Homo sapiens: one gene and its partner. The protein of the gene in region 1 interacts with the protein of each later gene in a pairwise test. Each region holds a gene or a part of one and is shown in the gene's direction. Other genes may lie near its edges.

The links.
Region 2: the proteins of XIRP1 (region 1) and EVL interact in a two-hybrid assay, tested with the Homo sapiens proteins (one study listed by BioGRID).

The regions. Positions count from the first base shown.
Region 1 is NC_000003.12:39,182,699-39,186,448, reverse strand, and holds the end of XIRP1 (xin actin-binding repeat-containing protein 1), read left to right. Parts: coding exon 1-2,535; 3' UTR 2,536-3,234; downstream 3,235-3,750. UniProt on the Homo sapiens protein: Protects actin filaments from depolymerization. Required for correct cardiac intercalated disk ultrastructure via maintenance of cell-cell adhesion stability, and as a result maintains cardiac organ morphology, conductance and heart beat rhythm.
Region 2 is NC_000014.9:100,127,880-100,131,688, forward strand, and holds part of EVL (ena/VASP-like protein), read left to right. Parts: intron 1-639; coding exon 640-869; intron 870-1,683; coding exon 1,684-1,805; intron 1,806-2,452; exon of another isoform or gene 2,453-2,581; intron 2,582-2,757; exon of another isoform or gene 2,758-3,809. UniProt on the Homo sapiens protein: Ena/VASP proteins are actin-associated proteins involved in a range of processes dependent on cytoskeleton remodeling and cell polarity such as axon guidance and lamellipodial and filopodial dynamics in migrating cells.

The DNA.
Region 1 (3,750 bases):
AAGGCAGTCCCTCTGGCTGGGGAAGCTGCAGCACCAGCCCAATTGCAAAACACAGAAAAGCAGGAAGACAGTCACTCTGGACAGAAAGGGATGGCAGTCTTGGGAAAGTCAGAAGGAGCCACGACTACCCCTCCGGGGCCTGGGGCCCCAGACCTCCTGGCCGCCATGCAGAGTCTGCGGATGGCAACAGCTGAAGCCCAGAGCCTGCACCAGCAAGTTCTGAACAAGCACAAGCAGGGCCCCACCCCAACAGCCACTTCCAACCCCATCCAGGACGGTCTTCGGAAAGCTGGGGCTACCCAAAGCAACATAAGGCCTGGGGGTGGAAGTGATCCCCGGATCCCAGCAGCCCCCAGAAAGGTCAGTAGGGAAGAGCAAGCACTACCCAGAGGGCTGCCTGGGGGGTGGGTGACAATTCAGGATGGCATCTACACCGCTCATCCCGTGAGGACCTTTGACCCACCTGGGGGTGTCCAGCTTTCTCAGAGGGAACCCCAGTCAAGGCACAGGGAGACTGCCCTCTCAGTCCAGGCTCCCCGCCCACTCCAGGGAGGCCCAGGTCAGAGTACTGGGCCAGGGCGGGAGGAGCCTGGGGGCTGCACACAGATGGCCTGGGGGCCACCAGGGAAGGCGATGGCAGAAGTCTGCCCAGGGGGCCTCCAAGCTGCAGAGACCACCCTGAAGACTGCCCCTCTAGGCCGCCACATTCTGGCCTCTGGGCCCCAAGCTGCAGGTGCCAGCCCGCACCCCCATAATGCCTTTGTTCCTCCTCCTCCTACTCTCCCAGCTGCTGTGACAGGACCTGACTTTCCAGCTGGAGCCCACCGTGCTGAGGACTCCATCCAGCAAGCCTCTGAGCCCCTGAAGGACCCCCTTCTTCACTCCCACAGCAGCCCTGCTGGCCAGAGAACCCCTGGAGGGTCACAGACAAAGACCCCAAAACTGGACCCCACCATGCCCCCAAAGAAGAAGCCGCAGCTGCCCCCTAAACCTGCACACCTAACCCAGAGCCACCCTCCTCAGAGGCTGCCCAAGCCCTTGCCTCTATCTCCCAGCTTTTCCTCGGAGGTGGGGCAAAGAGAACACCAACGAGGTGAGAGAGATACAGCCATCCCTCAGCCAGCCAAGGTTCCCACTACTGTAGACCAGGGCCACATACCTCTGGCCAGATGTCCCAGTGGACATAGCCAGCCCAGCTTACAACATGGCCTCAGCACCACGGCCCCCAGGCCCACCAAGAATCAGGCTACAGGCAGCAATGCCCAGAGCTCTGAGCCCCCCAAGCTCAATGCCCTCAACCATGATCCCACCTCACCACAGTGGGGCCCCGGCCCCTCAGGAGAGCAGCCCATGGAAGGTTCCCACCAAGGGGCCCCTGAGAGCCCTGACAGTCTGCAAAGAAACCAGAAAGAGCTCCAGGGCCTCCTGAACCAGGTGCAAGCCCTGGAGAAGGAGGCCGCAAGCAGTGTGGACGTGCAGGCCCTGCGGAGGCTCTTTGAGGCCGTGCCCCAGCTGGGAGGGGCTGCTCCTCAGGCTCCTGCTGCCCACCAAAAGCCCGAGGCCTCAGTGGAGCAGGCCTTTGGGGAGCTGACACGGGTCAGCACGGAAGTTGCTCAACTGAAGGAACAGACCTTGGCAAGGCTGCTGGACATTGAAGAGGCTGTGCACAAGGCACTCAGCTCCATGTCTAGCCTCCAGCCTGAGGCCAGTGCCAGAGGCCATTTCCAGGGACCTCCAAAAGACCACAGTGCCCACAAGATCAGTGTCACAGTCAGCAGTAGCGCCAGGCCCAGTGGCTCAGGCCAGGAGGTCGGAGGTCAAACTGCAGTCAAGAACCAAGCCAAGGTTGAATGCCACACTGAGGCCCAGAGTCAAGTCAAGATCAGAAATCACACAGAGGCCAGAGGTCACACAGCCTCAACTGCCCCTTCCACCAGGAGGCAGGAGACATCAAGAGAGTATTTGTGCCCTCCTCGGGTTTTACCTTCCAGCCGAGATTCTCCCTCCTCCCCAACATTTATCTCCATCCAGTCGGCCACAAGGAAGCCTCTAGAGACTCCCAGCTTTAAGGGCAACCCTGATGTCTCAGTGAAAAGCACACAACTGGCTCAGGACATAGGCCAGGCCCTGCTCCACCAGAAAGGTGTCCAAGACAAAACTGGGAAGAAGGACATCACCCAGTGCTCTGTGCAACCTGAACCTGCCCCTCCCTCAGCCAGTCCCCTGCCCAGAGGGTGGCAAAAGAGTGTTCTGGAGCTACAGACGGGGCCAGGGAGCTCACAACACTATGGAGCCATGAGAACCGTGACTGAACAGTATGAGGAGGTGGACCAGTTTGGGAACACAGTCCTCATGTCTTCCACCACAGTCACCGAGCAGGCAGAGCCACCCAGGAACCCAGGCTCCCACCTCGGGCTCCACGCCTCCCCCTTGCTGAGGCAGTTCCTGCACAGCCCAGCTGGGTTCAGCAGTGACCTGACAGAAGCTGAGACGGTGCAGGTGTCCTGCAGCTACTCCCAGCCAGCTGCCCAGTGAGGCCCACCGCCTCCCACCACACCTGCCACCTGTTCCTGGCCTCCACTGCCCCAGGACTGAAGTGGGTACCTGCCTCCTGTACACTGGAGCAAGGACCAAGAGGAAATGGCATCTTCAGAGGATTACTGTGGGCCATTTCCCTTTCGCAGTTCTTTCAATAGGCCCAGTTCTTCCAAATGGAAAAAGAAAGGTCTGGAAGAGGCCCACAGAGTTGCACAGGCGTGGGGGTAGGATGGGGGCTCCCAGCTGCTTGTGGAGGATGTAATATATACAGACACACACATGTTTTTCACACAGGCCTGGCCCACGCATCGACATGTGTGAATTTGCACACCACTGCCTGAATTGGAGCCCCCCAGAGTGTCCCTCTACCCAGAGTTTTTATTTCTTTAATTAGTCTGAGTGTTCCCAGCCATCTGCTCCTTAATCCCTGGAGAGGAACAGAGCCAACTGGACACAGCGTTGGTCTCTGTTTGGAATCACTGTGAGGTCTCCAGAAGGACCTGGCCGCCAGCCCCTTCATCACCATCTCCATCATTCAGCTGGTCATCTGGTGGCCCAAAGGTCACCCAAAGAGTCAGCAATCAGCATGTCCCTAGAAGCCAAATGCACTGCCTTTCTCTGTCCCCATGACTGTCCCCCACTCTGCACCCCAAATGGGAAGCATACGGTCTGAATAAATCCAAGTTTTATTCTCTACTCTGTGCATGTCTGACTGTGTGTACATCTGTTCCAGTATGTGTTCCTACTGCAGGGGGAGAAAACAGCCACAACCTCCAGGTGCCTCGTCTTCCTAGCAACAGCAGTGTGGGAAGGCTCTAAAAGCCACCCCTTCTCCACCATCTTGGCTGGCAACCAGAAATGCCCTGCCCACACTTCTATTCTCCTTGCCCCTATCCCCATCACACACACACACACACACACACACACACACACACACACACACACAGTGCTGCCCTCTCTATCTCGACCTCGCCTCCTGGATGTTCTTGAATACCATCCTGGAGGGGTTCTTAGAATCCTGCCCCAGAGCTGGAGAGCAGCCCAGTCAGGACTGGGAAGCAGGAGGAACTCACGCCAGGAGAATTCCTGTGCCCAAGATGGCTGGATCACTTCTGCCTGTTCAGCCCAGGTGTTGTGTGCCAAGCAGTGGTTCCTGAGAAATGAAGTGCTCAGATCCTGGCCTGGAAAGTCAGGTTGTTTTGGTGAAGGGCC
Region 2 (3,809 bases), on another chromosome or scaffold:
CCTCATAGGCTGTGAGCACCCTGAGCAGAGAGCTTGTGGCTGGTTTTCCTCAGCACCATACCCAGCACCTAGCACAGTGCCTGGCACAAAACAGGCTTAGGCAGCACTGGCGGAAGGGGCTGGATGGATGATGCTGGAGCCCAGCACTCGGCATTGCGCCCTGACCCATGCCCCCAGTCGGCCCTGGGACCCACAGGACCTGCCACGGCCCCCAACGACCCAAGTGTCAGTCACAGTTGGATCTTGGTGACCAACTTCTGCCTAGGGGGTGCTAGGTGCTTAGAAGGAGCAGAGAAGAGAAGAGGCACAGACTGTAACCAGACAGCTTCCTCTCCCCCTGGAAAAACATGATTGGAGCAAGAGGAAATTGCCTGGGCTCAAGGAATGTTAAGCAAATAGAGGACACCTGTGGGTCCAGCCAGGCCCCGGAGTACTGAGGACACCAGAATAGGGAATAATTGTGCCAGAGCCAAGTTCATCCCGCGGAGGCTTCCTGGATGAAGCAGGCCTGGAGCTGTTTCTCATCCCTTTGGGGAGCAGCCTGCCCCTGTCCTTCCTCCGGGGAACCTGAGCTGAGAGCAGCAGGCTTGGCCCCCAGCTGGGTGCTGGAGCTGGCTGAGCCTCACTGTTGTGTTTCAGGGCCCATCCTCCCACCAGGACATCCTTCATCTGCAGCCAGCGCCCCCGTCTCATGTAGTGGGCCTCCACCGCCCCCCCCACCCCCAGTCCCACCTCCACCCACTGGGGCTACCCCACCTCCCCCACCCCCACTGCCAGCCGGAGGAGCCCAGGGGTCCAGCCACGACGAGAGCTCCATGTCAGGACTGGCCGCTGCCATAGCTGGGGCCAAGCTGAGAAGAGTCCAACGGGTAAGAGCTCCTGTGTGCGGGGTGGGAATGGGACCGAGGGGACCCTTGTGCCATCTGCAGAGCGCTTGTGTTCCTTCCCGCATCTGCGAGACACAGCAAACTGCTTCCCTGCCCAAAGCTAGCTGGCCCTTGGCCACTTGTTCTCAAACGAGAAATCACATGGGACAGCACTTTGAAATTATGAAGTTAGCCTTTGAGCCTCACGTTGACCTTCACACGTGGGGCAAGAACTATGTCCCCCTTTAGAGATGAGGAAATTGAAGCACAAAGAGCACGAGTAATTTGCTCAAGTCACACCGTTTACAAATTGCAGATTTTGGACTCAAGCCTGGGTCTCCTGAATCTATGTCCATTGCCCTTTCCACTGTAGGAAGCTGTATGCTGGCAACTAGGTCCACCCGGCTGTTTCTTCCCTAACCCTTGCTCATATGTTCTAGAACTGTGCTTGTAAGAATAGCTCTAATACAGACCTTTGGCTTACATTGTGTTTCCTTCCCACAGGATAGTCTCTTCTCCCCTCCCTCCCTCCCTCCATGTGTCATGGCTGGTCTTGGCAAAGACACTAACCATGAGTCTGCAGGCCTGGGGAGTGTCTGCGACTTGTGTGACCTGGGCTGGTCCTTGTCCCTCTCTCGATTCTGGTTTTCTCCCCTGTGGGGTTGGAGAATAATGGACCAGATGGCCCCTGAGGCCCCTTGCAGTGCTGCTGCCATAGGATTCACACGCACACAGTCCCCTGCATCCCCTCACATCGTTGCTGCTCCTGTTCTGCCATCAGCAGCAGAATCTAAAACGCGGCCTCCTTTTTCCTCAGCCAGAAGACGCATCTGGAGGCTCCAGTCCCAGTGGGACCTCAAAGTCCGATGCCAACCGGGCAAGCAGCGGGGGTGGCGGAGGAGGCCTCATGGAGGAAATGAACAAACTGCTGGCCAAGAGGTGGGTCTCTACACCTCCCGAGACTTGGTGTGCCTAGCAGGAAGCTCCTGCCCCCGCCCCCAGCGCTGCACAGAGAATCCTCTCTTGACCCCAGAATCTTTGTTCCCTGGGTTTAGCCAAGCAGGGGAAACTGTTACTTAAGTTTTCCCTTCCCAAGGGGTTAGTCTGAAGCGCAAGCCCACAGGAGTCCTCTAAACTCCAGATCCTTCATTTTAGCTCAGCAAATATTTCCTGAAGCATCTACCATGTACCAGCCCTGTCCTGAGCAGAGATAAATGTGGAGACAATTTCAGAGATAAATGCGGGAAAAAGAACAGTCCTTGCTCTTAAGATCCTAACAGAAATAAGATGTGGCCGCAGTGGTCGAGTTTGCAGAGGACACTCTGGTGAATGTGTGGTGAAGGCACCCCATTCTCCAGGGTTCTTTATGGAGGACTCAGGAGAAGGAGTTATGAAGGGTAGGAGCCCAGAGGGCATTGCCCTGAGCGACGGAGAGAGAGTAGTTCCATCTACATCCCGGCCGGGCTCTTGGGCCTGAGACCTGGCCATGTGTGTCTGCTCGCTGCAGCGGGTGTGGCTGCAGCCTGCCATTGTGGCTCTCCGCTGTTCCCCAAATGAAACCCGAGCAGATGGGGAGATCGTCCAGGTCTTTCTCAAAAGGGATGCAAAGCTTGGATTTTATTTTTAAATATGACTTGGCATCAGGAATGTGCTCACCTTGGACTACCAATATCGTGGCTCACTTAGGCACCAGAGGGCACGGGAGTAGGCCTCACCTGCCAGAACAGAGGAAGCTGCAGCGGGGGCCCTGCTCCCTTGGTAACCCCACCTCCACCCCCTGCCACTTTGTCGCCTTCTCCTGGCCCTCCCAGCTGCCTTCCAATTGGCTGACCCAAGTGAGAACTCTGTGTGCCCAGGGTCTTCACACTGCAGTCCTAGTTCCTCTCATTACCTTCCCGTGGCTCCATGAGGATGATGCGAGATGACAGAGGCCCACAGCTGCAGGCAGCTGGTGTGGCGCTTCATGGCAGGGCCACAGCCTGGGTTTCCTGCCAAGGGGCTCTTTGCTTGCATCACAGATGGCAGGGAGGGGAGGCTCCCCGTGTGTCAGGGAGCAGCAAGGTGGATCCGCAGCACGGGCGTCTCCGGAGCCTCTACTGGGCCTGGGCGTTTGTACATCGCCAAGACAGGAGGCAGGCTTCTGAGCAGTTTCCTGTGAGAGTAAGTCCAGGTGTGTGGGGCTTACAGTGGCCACACAAAGGCGAATGGCTCCGTGGGTGAGAGAGCCGGGAGGGCTCGCAGAACGATGAGGACGTCCCGTGCTGTAAGAGGGACAGTGGGCAGAGTTAAGGTAAGGCTGGGAAGGCTGACGCCCCCTGTGCCTGGAGAGCTAGGTGTGGAGGAAATGGACCAAAAGTCAGGCTGGAAGAGGGAGCCTCCTGGTGCAGGGCATCGGGTTCCACCTCAGAGCACTCAGAGGCGAGGATGGGCCACAGAGAAATAGAAATAGTTTTGGAAAAGAAAATATGAATGCTTTCCCTAAGTCCTAGACCAAGCTGAGGGGAAGCACCTTTCTGTCTGAGAACAGGAAAAGGCCAGTATTGCCAGGAGCCAGTGAGATGCCAGATGCCGGTGGGAGAGTCAAGGCCCTCCCAAGAACAAACATGCTTTGCATAGCTCAGCAGGGATCAATCAGGTGCTCTCTGAAATCCACCTCAGTGATGGCTACTGGGTGGAGCCGACGATGAAAGTGCCCTTGCCAGGTTTCTTTTCATGTAGGTTGTCTCCCGCCTCTGAGGGCATGCAGTTGAGTCTCCCAACAGTGGAGGGCAGGAGGGAAATGAACGTGGACAGAAAGCTCCTGTTCAGCAGCACTTTCACAGACACTCATCCCGCCTACACTCCCCGTGAGCAGGTGGCTTGGTCAGCGTTCTGTTTCTAGGAGATGGGACACTGGCTGCTGGGGGGTAGCTGGTGAGGTGTAAGTGATCGTGGCTAGGCCAG